Regions from separate parts of the Homo sapiens genome. Here region 2 is linked to region 1. Evidence: fine-mapped expression QTL. Tissue or cell type: whole blood. Region 1 holds a variant in brackets; the other region holds the start of a gene. All regions are shown on one strand. Distances are from middle to middle. Region 1 overlaps RBL2 (RB transcriptional corepressor like 2). Region 2 holds the start of AKTIP (AKT interacting protein).

The links.
Region 2: it holds the start of AKTIP, and the variant in region 1 is fine-mapped to the expression of AKTIP in whole blood (INTERVAL, PIP 0.93).

What each region holds. Positions count from the first base shown.
Region 1 is chr16:53,472,883-53,481,414 of GRCh38, reverse strand. It overlaps RBL2 (RB transcriptional corepressor like 2), which reads right to left. Exons shown (of 22, transcript NM_005611.4): 18 at 2,190-2,261; 19 at 1,424-1,529; 20 at 646-848. Among named protein-coding and RNA genes, the nearest start is that of AKTIP, 26 kb to the left of the region's middle. The variant A/G (reference allele first, on the strand shown) is at 4,596.
Region 2 is chr16:53,500,040-53,508,159 of GRCh38, reverse strand. It overlaps AKTIP (AKT interacting protein), which reads left to right and starts at 4,951. Exons shown (of 10, transcript NM_022476.4): 1 at 4,951-5,013; 2 at 7,831-7,942. The coding sequence starts at 7,901. It overlaps LOC124903690 (a long non-coding RNA gene), which reads right to left and starts at 3,780. Exons shown (of 2, transcript XR_007065069.1): 1 at 3,740-3,780; 2 at 2,182-3,419. RefSeq lists silencers at 3,784-3,873, 4,594-4,833, 4,854-4,923, 5,184-5,483 and enhancers at 4,194-4,293, 4,754-5,253, 5,254-5,755.

The DNA of each region.
Region 1 (8,532 bases):
AGTTATATTCCCATTTTATATATGAGGAAATGAGGTACAGAGAAAATTTAATGATTTGCAAGGTTACCACCACTGTTAAGTACTGGAAAATTTGAACCCATGTAGCCTGTCTCTTGTACTACTATACTTTGTAGGGACTCCAAATACAATCTTACTCGTTTAATGCTTAACAACAGTAGAATTTATATTGGTTAGGTAAATTACAGACCTCCTCAGTTTTACTTAATAGAATTATTTGTAAAACTAGCTTATTTATGAGACAGAGTCTTGTTCTGTCACCCAAGCTGGAGTGCAGTGGCACAATCTCAGGTCACTGCAACCACCGCCTCCCATGTTCAAACAATTCTCCTGCCTCAGCCCCCAGAGTAGCTGGGATTACAAGTGTGTGCCACCACGCCCAGCTCATTTTTGTATTTTTAGTAGAGACTGGGTTTTACCACGTTGGCCAGGCTGGTCTTGAACTCCTGACCTCAAGTGATCTGCCCTCCTCGGCCTCCCAAAGTGCTGGGATTACAGGTGTGAGCCACCACACCTGGCCAAAACTAGTTTATATACGGACCAGGTGAATGGTCCATATATAAATCATAAATGATTCCTCAACACTCATGAGTGAAAAAAGTATGAAATAATCCCTGTCATACTTACATTTGCCTGTGAGTACTTCATGGCAAATGTCTTAATCTGTTTGATGTAGATGTTGTTGTAGAACTGAATGAGGTCTCCCCTCTCCTCTTCTTCCATGTCACTGTTGGCACCTGTGAGGCGAGTAGGTGTGGGAGGAGCACTGCTGGGCTGTGGAACTGGCAAGGTGCTGCTTGACCTCATAACTGGACTGGAGTCTCTACTGGCTGCAGCCAGGAGAACAAAGGCTGTCAGTACAAAGGCTGCTAATATTGACTGTTTTAATTTTTTAAAAGTAGGAGAAAGGGAACAGCTACCTGCACTACTTGCTAATAACAGTGAATAGGCACTCTGTTCTTCACACCAAAAAGCAAAGCTCAGCTAGGATATTAACTTTCTCCCTATGCCATAACCATAGCAAGGGCTTTCTGAGTAGTGTCCATTAATAAGTTACACCAAATTTTCTAGGACCTAAGCCCTGTACTAAGTGGTACAAAGCAACAGGCAGGGGATGGTATTTCCATAGCATGGTTCCAATTGACATATCAGACCTTTCTGGAACTCAGGCAAGCAGATTCCTCCCTGAAAGCTCTAATTCTCCTGGAGAAAAATGTTACATAATATGTGCCCCAAAGCTATGTAATGGACAGTTTTGCCAGCTAGAATATGGTTTACTGATCTATAAAACACTTTCATAGTTTCTATAGTTATTTCATTTAGTAATGCTTAGTTACTTCTTCAAGGCCTAAAAAGTAAGAAAAGCTCCTAATTTTGTCTTGTAGTTCACAAAGATCCCACTTACTTCTATCTTTGTTTAGTTCTGTTGGAGAATTCTGATGGCTTCTGCTATCACTGCTGCCAGAATTTCTTCTTTTTCTTTTCCCTTTTATCAAAACACTTCTATACACCTTTAGAGAAACAATGAGAAGGGGACATAAACTAGTATTTGTTGAGCACACCCTTGGTGATAGGACCTTCACATATGTTACTTGGTTTTCACAATAACCTGTATAGCAATAGTTGTCCTCAGAACAGGTTGAGAAACATAACTCAAATTATAACAGATCCAGGATTCAATCAGAGCCCATCTAGCATCACATGCCAAGTACTACCTGCAGTACTACACTGCAGTGACAGCACCCAACCATAATGTCAAGTCATTCTAAGTAAGATACACAGATCTGGCCGATTTGCCTCTCAGAGATGAATGGTAATAAAGGCAAAGTGGGTTTTAAATTTCCATGTGACATTCTGTTGGTTAAACCTACAGTATGTTTACTAAACCAGAATGAAAGGTGACATAGAAACCAAGTAACTTCTTAATTCCTATCTTGTGATTTTTCTGAATTAAGAAGGCAATCAAATATTTAACATTGTTGCCTTTTGAGGAAAAGAGACCTTAATCAACATGTGACATCAAGAATAAAGATTAAAGTAGAAACTTCCCTTAAGTAGAGTCCCAGGTGTTTATCTTGGAAAAAAGGCCACAGAGTCAACTATGGTTAATTTTTTGTATTCATCACAGACTTTAAGCTTTATTTTTCAGCCCATAGAGAAAATGTAGTTACCTGGCTCCGGGCCTGCGGCTGAGTCCTATAACAACGCATAATGTTCTGGAAGGACTTATCTTCTTTTGTGACCTGGCAAACAATAAGAGTGCTCTGAGAGACATGGCAACTACCACCATAATAGTGTGAGGAGCTCTGTGAACCTGCTGCCCAGTAAAAGGGGTGAAAATTATATAAAAGCTATTTAAAGTCTCTGGAAATGGTATTAACGGCATATAGCAAATGAAGATACATCGATTCAAGAATATCTATTAAAATTCAATAAAAACAATAGGAGTCTATAGTATGTGAATCAAGACTTAGAGGCCAGGTGCGGTGGTTCACACCTGTAATCCCAGCACTTTGGGAGGCTGAGGAGGGTGGATCACTTGAAGTCACGAGTTCAAGACCAGCCTGGCCATCATGGTGAAACCCAGTATCTACTAAAAATACAAAAATTAGCCGGGCATGGTGGCACATGCCTGTAATCCCAGCTACTGGGGAGGCTGAGGCAGGAGAATCACTTGAACCTGGGAGATGGAGGTTGCAGTGAGCTGAGATTGAGCCACTGTACAGCCTGGGTGACAGAGCAAGACTCTCTCTCAAAAAAAGACTTGGAGTAGAAAAGTACAGTAAATGAAATGAAAAATTCACTAGAAGCTAGGGAAAACAGATTTGAACTAGCAAAAAAAAAAAAAAAAGGATTAGCAAACATGAAGAAAGAGATTGTGTGATCTGAGGAACAGAGAAAGAATGAAGAAAAACAGCCTCAGAGAAATGTGGCACACCATTAAGGAAATCAACATACGTGTAATGGGAGAATCAGGAGAGGAGAGAAAGAAGCAGAAAAAAATGTTCAAAGAAATACTGAAAACTTCCCAAATTTATTAAATTACATATCCAGGACATTCAGTGACTTCCAGGTAGGATAAACTCATCCGTACCCAGATATATCACAGTAAAAATGTTCAAAGCCAAAGAAAGAAAATATTAAAAGCATCAAGAGAAAAACAACTTTTCAGTTACAGGGAAACCCCAATAAAATAAAATTTGACTTCTAATCAGAAACTACAGAGGCCAGGAGGCAGTGGGATAACATTCAAAGTGATGAAAGAAAAAATATTAAACTAAGAATCCAGTATTAAAAAGTTACTCAAGATTTTTATCTCTGAAATGTCAATATTCAAAATTTTTGCAAGTTATCTTTCAGAAATGAAGGTAAAATAAATATACTCTCAGATAAACAAAAACAGAATTTGGTGCTAGCAAACCCCTTACAAGAAATACTACACAAAATTCTAGAAGCCAAAAGCAAATGCCCCTGGACAACACTACACATGAAGAAAGCCAAGAGCACTGGTAAAGATAATTATGTAATCGTAAATACAGTATAACTGCACATTTCTTCTCCTTTCTTAACTGATTAAAAAATCAATTGTATAAATAATATATATATATAATGTACCCATAACATACAAAAATGTAACATATTTGCCTACAACAGTACAAAGGAGGTAGGCAGGAGCAAAGCCATATTGAGCAAAGGAAATTACTCCAGATGGCAACTCACATACACAGGAATGAATAAGAGAAATAGAAATAGGCTGGGTGTAGTGGCTACTCCTGTAATCCCAACATTTTGTGAGGCTGAGGCAAGTGAACTGCTTGAGGCCAGGAGTTCGACACCAGCCTGGGCAACATGGCAAAACCCCGTCTCTACAAAAAAATACAAAAATCAGCCGGGCATGGTGGCACATGCCTGCACCCTGTAGGCCCAGCTACATGGGAGGCTGAGGCAGAAGGATCATTTGAGCCCGGGAGGCAGAGGTTACAGTGAGTTGAGATTGCACCGCTGCTCTCTAGTCTGGGCGACAGAGCAAGACTCAGTCTTAAAAAAGAAAGAAAGAAAGGAAACCAGAAATTATTAATAAGGTTACTAGAGCAAAAGTTTTAAATACATACTTACACTCCTTTCCTTTCTGCTACTTTAGAAGTCATAAAATTGTATCAATAATTATAACAATGTACTGGTGGAGTTGTACATTTATGGATGTAATATGTGTAACGAAACAGTTAACACTCCTATATCTCACTGGAATTAAGTCAGTATAATCTGAAGCTGATTTTTGATAAGAGATATATGGTAAGCCCTAGGGCAACCACTACACACACACACACACACACACACAAAATGAAACCAAAGTACTGACGTTAAAATGCTACTTTAGAAAATATTGACCTAATGCAAAAGCAAAGCTGCAAAGGCAAAGGGAAAGACATGAAAACAAAAAGTAAAATGGCAGATGTAAATCCAATTATATACATAGTCAAAAGGCAAAAGAAATCCAAATGTATTTTATCTACAGGAGACATTTTAGATTTAAAAAATACAAATACATTCGAAAATGAAAGGATGGAAAGAGGTAT[A/G]CAGACAGCAACCATAAGAAAGCTGGGTGACTATATATCTCACACTATAAATCAGACTTCAGGACAAAAAAAGTTATTAAAAAGGGACATTCCATAATGATAAAAGGATCAAGCCATCAGGAATCTATAACAGTTATACACATACCTAATAACTGAGCACAAAAAATACCTGAAGCGAAAAGTGACAGAAGTGAAGGGAAAAGTAGACAATTCAGCAATAATATTTATAGATTTCAGTACCTCACTTTCAAGAATGGAGAGATGATCTAGGCAGATCAACAAGGAAACAAAACACTTTACTAACAATATAAAACAATTAGACCTAACAGACATCTACAGAACACTCTCCCCAACCTCCACAGAATACACACTGTTCTCAAATGTACTTTGAAATTCATTAGGATAGAGCATATATGCTAGGCTATAAAACAATTCTTAATATATTTAAAAGAACTGGAATAAAATGAAGTGTGTTTTCAATCACAATGAAAGTAGAAATCAGTAACAAATTTGGGAAACTTACAAATACGAAGTTAACAACATATTGCTACATAACCAGTGAGTCAAACAGAAGCCAAAAAAAGAAATCAGAAAATACTTTTGAAATGAAGACACACCATACCAACACTCATGCAGCTAAAGCAGTGCACGGAGGAAAATTTAGAGTTGTTAATGCTTACACTGAAAATGAAGAAGGGCCAAGGGCGGTGGCTCACACCTGTAATCCCAGCACTTTGGGAGGCTGAGGAGGGAGGATTGCTTGAGCTCAGGAGTTCGAGACCAGCCTGGGTAACACAGCAAAATCTCGTATCTACAAAAAATTAGCAGGGCATGGTGGTGCACGGCTGTGGTCCCAGCTACTCAGGAAGCTTAGGGAAGAGGATCACTTAAGCCCTGGAGGAAGGCTGCCGTGAGCACTACACTCCAGCCTAGGCGACAGAGCAAGATGCTGTCTCAAAAAAAAAAAAAAAAAAAAAAAAAAAAGATATTGAAATATTAGAAAGGTATCTTTTAAAAGATACTGATATCTACGTAAAGGATTTGGGGAAAAAAGATATTAAGAGAAATAGTAAATTAATTACCTAAACATCCATCTTAAACCATCTTAAAACAACAGAAAAGGGCAAAAAGTAAGCCTCAAGTAAGCAGAAAGAAGGAAATAAGATTATATACTAATGAATAAAGAACACAAAAATAGATAAATGAAACCAAAAAGCTGGTTTTTAAAAGAAAAAGATCAAGAAAATTGACAAACCTTTAGCTAGACCAAGAACAAAAGGGAGGAGTCTCAAACTACTACAAAAAGCAGGGCACAGGGGCTCATGCCTGCAATCCCAGCACTTTGGGAGGCCAAGGTGGATGGATCGCTTGAGGCCAAGAGTTTGAGACCAGCCTGGGCAACATGGGGAAATTCCATCTCTACTAAAAATACAAAAACTAGCTGGGCGAGGTGGCACAGGCCTGTAGTCCCAACTACTCAGGAGGCTGAGGCACAAGAATCACTGGAAACCAGGAGGCTAAGGTTTCAGTAAGCCAAGATCATGCCCCTGTATTCCAGCCTGGACAACAGAGTGAGACTGTCTCAAAAAACAAAACAAAACGAAAACTACAATCATAAAAGGAAAAGGACATTACTACTGACCTTAAAGAATAAAAAAGAACAGAAGGAAATATTATAATTATTTGCCAACAATTTAGCCCAGAGGAAACAGACAAATTCTTAGAAAGACATACACTACCACAACTGATTCTAGAAGAAACAGATGATCTGAATAGACCTATAACAAATAAGAGACGGAATTATTCACCAATAAACTTCCCACAAGGAAAATCTCTGGTCTCAACAGCTTCGCTGCTGAATTCTACCAAACTTTAAAACATTAATACCAAGAAGCTCATATCCATGGGTCTTTCAGGCAGCTGTAAATTAAAAAAAAAGGCAAAGGAAAAAATATAATACCTAAATATAGAAGAGAACACTTCCTACTCAATTCTATGAGACCATTATTACCCTGATAATAAAACCAGACAAAGCCACAACAAGAAAACTACAGACCAATGCCTCTTATGCATAAGGATAAAATTCCTTAGCAATCACTGCTGCATGTGGAAACTTGAAAAAATAAATATTTTTTTTAACTGAAAACAAATTCCTCAACAAACTGTTGGCAAACCAAACCTAGCAACATATAAAAAGAATTATAGGCTGGGCACCGTGGCTCACGCCTATAATCCCAGCACTTTGGGAGGCCGAGGCAGGTGGATCACCTGAGGTTGGGAGTTTGAGACCAGCCTGACCAATATGGAGAAACCCCGTCCCTACTGAAAATACAAAATTAGCCAGGGGTGGTGGCACATGCCTGTAATCCCAGCTACTTGGGAGGCTGAGGCAGGAGAATTGCTTGAACCTGGGAGGCGGAGGTTGCGGTGAGCCAAGATCTCGCCACTGCACTCCAGCCTGGGCAACAAGAGCGAAATTCCATCTCAAAATAAATAAATAAATAAATAAATAAATAAAAGAATTACAGCAGCCGGGTGCAGTGGCTCACGCCTATAATCCCAACACATTGGGAGGCTGAGGCATGAGGACTGCTTGAGCTTAGGAGTTCGAGACCAGCCTGTGCAACAAGGTAGACCCTGTCTACAAAAAATTTAAAAAATTAGCCAGGCATGGCAGCATGTACCTGTAGTCCCAGCTACTCAGGAGATGAAGGTGGGAGGACTGCTTGTAGTGAGCTATGATCTCACCACTGCACTCTAGCCTGGGTAACAGAGCGAGACACTGTCTCAAAAAAAGAAAAAAATAAGACTTACACACCATGACTGAGAGGGATTTACACCAGAAATGCAAGGCTGGTTTAACATAGGAAGATTAATCAGTGTAATATACTATATTAATAGAATAAAAAAAATAAGCACACGATCATCTCAATGGACACACAAGCATTTGACAAAATCTAATGCCCTTTCATGATAAAAAAAACACTCAATGAACTAAGAAAAGAAGGGAACTTCCTCAACCTGATAAAGGGCATCTATGAAAAAAACCATAACTACTATCATACTTTAATAGTGAAAAACTAGATGCTTTCCACCTAAGATCAAGACAAGGATTTCTGCTTTCGACAGTTCTGTTCAACTATACTGGAAGTTCTAGCAAGATAATTAGGAAAGAAAAAGAAATAAAAGGCATCCAGTTTGGACAAGAAGTAAAATTATAAGCAGATTACATGATTTCCTACATAGTAATCCTAAGGAATCTACTAGAAAACTATTAGAACTAATAACTTCTGCAAAGTTGCTGGATACTAGATCAATATACAAAAGTGTTTTTCTATACACTTGCAATGAACACGTTAACAATGAAACAACTACACTTGGAATAGCATCAACAAGAATAGGAATAAATTTAACAAAAGAATTGCAAACATACTCTGAAAAGTACAAAGCATTGTTGAAAAAAAAACAGAAGATCTAAATAAATGGAAAAACATCCTATGTTCATGGATCAGAAGATATAAAATTGTTAAGATGGCAATACTCCCCAAATGGATCTACAGATTCAGTGCAACCCTATCAGAATCCTAGCTTATTCCTTTGTGAAACTGATAATTTGATTCTAAAATTCATTTTTCAAGGGACTTCGAAAATAATCTTGAAAAGAAAAAAAAAGTAGGAGCACTCATATTTCCCAATTTCAAAACTTATAAGAAAGCAACTCTCTAATCTAGAGAATATGGTATTGCATAAGGATAGGCATATAGTCCAGTGGAATAGAATTTAGAGTTCAGAAATAAACCCAAATGTTGTCAACGGTCAATTGATTTTAAAGGAGGGTACCAAGGCCATTCAGTGAGGAAAAAAATCTTCTTTTCAACAATGGTGCTGAGACAACTGCACAACCACATAATCAGAATGGAAATGGACTGCTACCTCA
Region 2 (8,120 bases), 27 kb before region 1:
TTCACGGAATCACCATTTACCTATTGCAAGAAAGAAAAGGTGTCTGTGCCTGGAATAGTACCCTTCCCTGAAAGAGTATTGCTTTCTCTCTCTTTGGTTTTCTGAGTGTGCCACTCTAGATAAAACTAACTCAAGCCTTTATCATCATTCCAAATGCTTTGAGACCACAGAGTGAAGTGGTTTCCCAAAGATAAACTGAATCAAAGAGAACACTGCTCTTATGGCTGTGGGTACAGTCATCAGCGTGCTGAGGGAGTGGGGATTATTTGCGGTGTCAGACCACGTTCAAAATGCTGTTTGATTATAAAAGGAAATCAGTTCTCTTCAGCCCTGAATGAGCAGCCGTATCATATATTGGTTGCTTTTCCTTAAGACATAAATATCCGCAGTGGTCCATCAGCTACCCTGATTTCATTTTGAAATGTTGTAGTCTGTCTGTAAAATTCATTCCTCCACCCGCCCACCCACTTGCTCAGGGATAGGAGTTATGGGTAATGGGATAGGGAGGAAAACATGATGCAACCAAAACCTGGAAGCACATGTGTGATGTTATAAGCAAGAACCGTATCGCTCGATGAGGCTATGGAAAGGAAGAAAGCCACATCATCCGTCTATAGCAGCATTTCTAAACCTTCAATAATTCTTAAAAGTTTGTGATTTCTGTCTTGTCTGAGGATCATTGTTAACTATAGGACAACTATCTGATCTCCCTTAAATCCATTTACTTAAAAAAAACAACAACATTAAATGCCTACTTTGGTCTCATCCTAAACATTATTACCCATAAAATAATGGCTTTAATGTGCTAAGTATATTTTTTCAAAGACATTAATATGTATAGCTAGATCATCCTCCCATATTTTGAACAGTATATGTAATCAGTGACATGTATACAGGAATCTACTTTTCAGAAAAGGACTTGGGGGCAAATGGATTGCGCTAAAAACATCGGCTTATATGTGTGCCTGTGTATGAAACATATGTATTTTAACAACCTTCAACATTTTATCCTTTCCTTCTTTCTGTGAAGGCCTTTAATAGTTAAGTCAGTGATCTAAACAGCTTTGTACAGTTACTTTTCCGGAGTCCAAAAGATGTATGATTCAGGGAATATTTTGCTGATTAGAACATGAGCAGAAGTCCTGAATACTCAGAGATCACATATCTATTAAGTCTGGATGCAAAAAGAACCTTTTGGTGCAAATATATCAAATATGCTTCAAAAATTGAGAATAGGAAATGTAATATGAAGCGATTTAAAATGTTTTATAGGTAAGGTTTTGGGTCCATTGAGATTTTTCTCAGCACTTTATGTTTTAGTCTTAAAGAAATGGTACCTTGAGGCCACCTCCTCATTTCCCTTTGAATAAATCATCCTGATTTTCATAATGAGTTGCTTTCTTGGTGCAGACCTGTGGGCGTGCAGGTAGGTGTTTCAAATGTACTTTTGTTTCTTCTGTCCTTCATTTGGCAAATATTTATTGCATGCCTACAACATCTAGCTCTTGGGTGCCGGGGAGACAATAGAAAGCAAAAAAATGGTTCCTCCTCAGGAGCTTACAGTGTGGGAGACAGACACTAATAATCTCCCAAATCAACAGCAAATTGCCCCCAAGGAAGTAGTGTTAGAGCTGAGATCTGTGTAGGGGATTGAAGAGAATGAACTGGGCAAAGGGAACGTTCACTGCGAAGGCCCCTTTTGTGGCAGGGCAGGTAGGGGAGCAACTCCCTTCCAAGGAACTGGAAGAATGTCAGAGTGGCTGGAGTCTGCAGCCACCTGGGGCTGGGACACAGCCATGGTGAGGAGTTTGGTCTTTGCCCAATGGGGAACCACTGAAGGGCTTAAATTCCTCAAGAAAATGGAGGTTCTGTCAGCAATGAAAAAGGGAGAAGTGGGTATTAGGTATACAGGCAATAGTGCTTACAGAAACACCCCAAACATACCTACCCAAAACACAACCCAGATTTTCCCATTTCCCACTGTCCCAAACCTGCTTGTGGTTCACTGTTTGTCACCTCAGTGAATGGCCTCACCATCCATCCTGTAGCTCATGCTAAAAATCTAGGTGTCAGCCATATCTGCCTCTTCATCCCCCATACCTAGTCCATGGCCAAGCTCTGTCCACCCCACCTGTATGAATCCATCAGTGTTGCTATAAAGGAATACCTGAGGCTGGGTCATTTATTTTTAAAAAGAGGTTTATTCAGCTCATTGTCCACTTCCTTGGGGCAATTAGCCATTGATTTGGGAGATGACTTGATTAGCATCTATCTCCCGTAGCTCCATGAGGAGGAACAATGTCTGTTTTGTTCTCCAACGCCTCCCCAGCATTTAAAGCCTAGATGTCATTAAGCATGCAATAAATATATGTCAAATGAAAGACAGAGGCAACTAAGTATAAGAAGCATGGCACCAGCATCTTCTGGTGAGGACCTCAGGAAGCTTCCATTCATGGCAGAGGGAGAGGCCAGCAGGAATCATTTGGCAAGAGAGAGAGCAGTGGTCAGGGGAGGAGAAGGTGACAGGCTCTTTTTGACAATCAATTCTCTCGGGAACTAATAGAACTCACTCACTACTGCCAAGAACTCACTACTGCCAGGACAGCACCAAGCCTTTCATGAGGGATCAGCCTCCATGACCCAAATACTCCCACCAGGCCCCACTTTCAACATTGGGGGTCACATTTCAATATGAGGTTTGGAAGGGTCAAACCATATCCAAACTATATCATCCCGTCTTAAACATCTCTGGAACTCATTCAATTCTCCATCTCTACCTTCAAATTCATGCGATTCTCTGTTGCCTGAACTACTGCCATGGTTCCTCAACTGCCCCGTGAGCCTTGTGCCCCTACAATCTGTTTTCCGCACAAAGTGATGTTTTCAAAATACAAATCTGATCATGGCTCTCCTCTGCCTAAAGTCCAGGCAGAGATCTAGGGAAAATCTCAGCCCAAGTCGATCATGGCGGACTCCTTCCACTTGCCGTTGACTGGGTTTCGTTGTGGCCAGAGACTTACTTCTGGCCATTGAAACCTGCAGGCATTTCTTCTGCGGAGCTTCTGGGAAAGGTAGTCATGTATTTCAAAAGGGACCACTGGAAGAAAGGGATACTTTTAATTTTGTGAGATCCTGGGTGTGCCGCGGCCATCTTGCTACCAGCCTGAAAGTGCAATTCCAGGGACTGCAAGGAAAGCAGAGCCTGAAGACCAGGGCACCACCTCTGGAGACAATCCTCCCATGGGAGAGAAATCCCCTTGCTAAGTAAGCCGGTTTGAGTTGGCTTTCCTGCCATGTGCAGTCTGATGCTGGTGTGCGTCTGAGTCATCCGGTGCCAAGTACGCAGTTGATGACATGCATTGGAAGCTCAGTGGATAGATGTGAGCTGGAGAAATACCTATGTGGGTCCTCGGTGAAAACTGAAGGTTGGGGAAAGGAGGAAAGCAGAAAAAAAGCTTTGCAGAGGATAATGAGCTTCAAAGAAGATTGGGAGGAAATGGGCCACAGAGGTGCCAAAGGAGACCACCTGTGGCCTGAAAAAAGGATTTCCTGCTTGCCTGCCTTTCTGTATTAAGACTCGTATTAAAAGGCATGATAACATTCCTAAATGTGTCCTAAGGGGACAAAAGGAAGTGGCTCAGAAGTGTTTTCAGCTAGGGGAGGAAGCTGGGTTTCAGAACCAACCCTTGGGATTAACATCAGGAGAATTTGGCTTCCTGCCCTTTAATAAGTCACTTACCAGAATCTCAGAGGCAACCAAAAATGGACCAAACAACCCGGCCAGAGAATGCGGCTTCTGAGTGTAAGACACTGAGGCGGTGTCACAGACAGGTCAGTGCCTCTGGTGTCTAGAAAAGGGGCAGGGGCTTGCGGGGAGAGGGCTGTCGCGCAAGTGTGGAAGTGGAGTGCCGAGATTGGACGGACTAACCACGGGGAGGCACCGTTGGTAAGAACAGGCCTGGAAAGCAGCTGGCAGCAGTCACAGAATTAGGCCAGAGAGAGACCTCCATGGGAAAGCAGACGGGAGGTCCAAATGAGAGCGTGTGAATTAAAAAAAAAAAAAAAAAAAAAGACCAGGAACTATGTTGCTATGGGAGAGGTTCTCCAACTTCAGTGTGCGCCAGAATCAGCAGCGAACTGTGACAGATGTGGATTCCTGGTCCTCAGCCTCCCCCCTCCCCCCAGCCCCCGGCCCCCACTCGGATGCTGCAGGTCGGGGCCGACACACACAGATTTACAAAGCTCCTCTGGCTGCTCTAGTGCCCAGGGCCCACTTGGAGCTGAGCTCCCTTCAGCTCCAGCCTTCAGCTCCTGCACTGATGGAGAGAACGGGCGTTTCTTGATGCCACGCCAAGTGTCCTTCTGACCCCTGGTACCCTGTGGGCCCGACGTGGCGGCCTCGGGCCTCGCAGCGCCGCCCAACGCAGTAGGACCTAGCGATGGGAGCCACTGGGCAGTCGCGCGGCCCGGCCCTCCCCAAAAGCTTGGCTTGCAGACGTTAGCGTATGCCCCAGCCCCTGCGCATGGCGGTTGCGCTGTGGGCTGTGCGAATAAACCTCCGGGAAGGTCTCCGTGGTGACTGGCAGACGCCCTGGCCAATTGTGACCCGGCGCTTGTTTGTCTCTGCCCCATCCCTCCCCGGGGGGCCGATACTTCCATGACTGACAGGCCGTCCCAGGCGCTGTTACGTAAGGGGAGGGTCAAGTGCAGTCCCACCCAAACCGGGGTGATTTGATTTGCAGGACCGAGTGTGTTCTTCCCAACGCCCCCGGAAGAACGTCTTTGACGGGCAGGTGTGAGAGCCAGTTGGCGCCGGGAGGCCAGGCGGAAGCCTCGGGCCCCAGGATCGTGCAGCAGGGGGCGGAGCCCGCTGCCGAGGGCAGGGCAGGGCAGGGCAGGGCGGGGTGGGGCGGGGCGGGGATCAAGCAGGGGCAGGGCTGGCGCTGCGGCGGGAGATGCTGTCGGGCCGCGGCGGCGCTTGGCAGCCAGGAGCTCTGCATTGAAGGCACTGGGGTGAGGCTTACTGCCCGGCAGGCTGGTGGGTACGCGAGGGCTGAGGTGTCTGTAAATCTGGCCGCCAGCCTCCACGGGCCCGGCATTTGTCCATCTTTCTAGGCGCTCGCGACTCGGCGACGGCGGCCGCAGTGGGACACGGAGGCGGGGCCGGGCACCTGTGCGCGTTTGCAGGCACCTGCTGCGCTGGCCGCCTCGCAGCCCGGGACTGCTGCTGGGGACTGCGGCTGGAGCTGGGCTGGCCCGGCCCGAGGGAGAGGGGGGCCCAGCTGGCTCGCCCCGGCCCGTGCCCGCCCTCCCCGGCCGGGTCCCGACCCCGAGCTCTGGTTAAGGGGGCGTCGCCGGGCCCCAGAGCCCCCCCACTGGAGGGGCCCGCGGCTCCCGGGCCAGCATCGAGCTAGCTGCGAGGCCAGGACAGGGCCCCCGCCTTGCATCACCTCGAGACAGGTTTGTCCAGATTCCCTGAGTGCTCAGAGACGGGTTTCCGCCCGCGGTGAGGGTGCCGGTCCGAGGCCGCCGCGGGTCCCGGCTGTCCCCAGCGAGCCTGGCCCGGGCCGTTTTCATCTTTTTTTTTCTGGCCCCTGCTCTGTCTCCTCTTAACGTGTAATTTCTTAAGTCCGATTCGGGGTGATGTGAGTGCGCTGTGGCATGTAGAGTAACAGCAGCACTCATGTTTTAGCCTAGTTTTAGCTCTGCCACGCACTGTCATTCGCGCAGGCTGAAGACCCAGACTTCTCAGCTGGGTGATGTAAAGGAATGCAGCCGTGGCCAAACAGGCAGAAATTCTAAAATTGTTTCCAAGTGACAAGGATGTAACATGTCTTGCTTCCATCTATGTCATTCCTCTCAGAACATGTATGCTGTGCTTGTCCTAGACTAGACCCTGAAAAGTGTGCTACAGTTTCTCGTGATTATGTTGCTGCTGGAAACATTGGATTAAAAGATCCATAGCAAAGTTAGGCAGCAGAAGACAATACCTCCTGCTTAATGACAGGCAGAACTGGGGACAAAATTTACTGGATTCTTAAAGAGAATCCTAACGCGTTAGACCTTTAAGAGACTTTACAGGTTTGCACCAGCCCATTAAATGTATGTTGTGGAGCACACCACTGTGTCCCAAGGGATCCGGTCCCGTGTTAGGTGTGTCCTAGAGGACACTGGGGTGCTGCACATTACTGCTAGATCTGAAAATCAGTGTCTTCATTTGAGCCAAAGGGGAACATGCCCCCGCACATTTTTGATATCTCAAGTATATTCAGTGTGTCATACTCACCTTTAAAGGCAGATTTGCGGAGAACTGTTGTTACTTATTGCATGTTATCCATGCTAGTAGAAGAGCCAGGATCTTCATTCCTCTGATTTAATTACTGGGTGGCATTTTCTCTTGGAAAACAAAACAGCAGTAATGGGCACTGGCAAGGTATGGATGACCTGGGTTGGGTACGTCCCTGGATGTCACAAGCTCGTCAGAGAAGACAAATTATTGCTGATTGGGGACATTTAGTACATGGTTTGCTCATGATCTGTTTAAGAAATTAGGAAAACGTTGCTTAGTTTTGACCCTTTTCACCTTCAGCCGTTTGATTGGTGCAAGTAGGAATTCAGAGAAGGAGCTCTGCTTTAAAGGTAACAGAGCCTGGGGGGAAATACCAGGGCAGGGAAGTTGCTGTTCTTACAGCTGGGCTTGGCTGCTTTTCCTTTGCTTCTTTGTATTTTTAGTAAATGACCCACTGACTTTATGACCTTTGAGACATGCTTTCTTATCCACGACTTGAAGCTTCGGCTGGAAGATCTGTACTTGTGAAATGTCTCTCTTGCGTGCCTGTGTTGCATTTGTCTGGATTGCTTGGCAGTTCCTTAAGTACATGATCCTGCAGTTTCTATATGTTTCGAAGTTGTAGAAGGCAGTTTATTGGGGGATGGTACTGACAGGACTCAGGTAACTACTTTTGTCGTCTTAGTGACATACTTGTGCTGTGCCTTCCTGTTTTCTCTTATTTCTTTGGCTAATACTTTGCTGGAGGAATCATTTTGTACTCAGGTGAGTTGAGGCAGCGCTTAAATCAGCCTCCTTGTATCTATTGTTTGTTCCCATAACCCTGGGAACAGTGATACAACTTATGTGTATGTGGGTACAGTGCATTCTGAGTCTGGCTTTCCTGTTAGTTAAATGCCGAGATGTGCTAGTAACAACTGTTGTCCGTATCTTCTGAATTTCTGGCACCAAAGCTCATCTGTGTCACTGAGTAATCTGAATCCTGGCCAAGGGACCTGGTGCACAGATTCTTATAGACATCTAAGTGTGAAAGAAATTAGAACCAGAAAAGGAGGTGGGTATAGAAGGAAACTATTTCTGAAGATGCCTGAAGACCTTTTCCTAGGTTTTTATAACCCCTTGTTATATAACATTATATTGTATATCCAGGGTGTCATAATTAGTTATTCATCATTTCAGAAGTCTTAACTGTTGGCCGGGCGTGGTGGCTCATGCCCGTAATCCCAGCACTTTGGGAGGCTGAGGCAGGTGGATCACTTGAGGTCAGGAGTTCGAGACCAGCCTGGCCAACATGGTGAAACCCTGTCTCTACTAAAGATACAAAACTTAGCTGGGCATGGTGGCAGGCACCTGTAATCCCAGCTACTCAGGAGGCTGAGGCAGGAGAATCGCTTGAACCCAGGAGGTGGAGGTTGCAGTGAGCCGAGATCACACCACTGCACTCCAGCCTGGGCAACAGAGTGAGACTCCATCTTAAAAAAAAAAAAAAGTCTTAATGGTTGGTGTTGGCATGTTTCTATGTCTTCCCGTCTTGTTTTAAGGTAAAGTGAATGCCGAAGACAGAAGATTTGGATGATACACCACTGACTTTCTTTGTTTGGAATACACGTTATGAACCCTTTCTGGAGCATGTCTACAAGCTCTGTACGCAAAGTAGGTATAGTTGATAAATTCAGTAAGAAAACCCATTTGCTTCTGTGTCTGAAAATAGGGTCAGAATGAAGGCTAAAATAATCTGTCACGGTCACCTGTAATCTTGACAAAATTACCTGGTTTTTCTAGTTAAGGGTTTACTCTTGAGAAATAATTATTTTGTTGGTTGAAGTCTGTT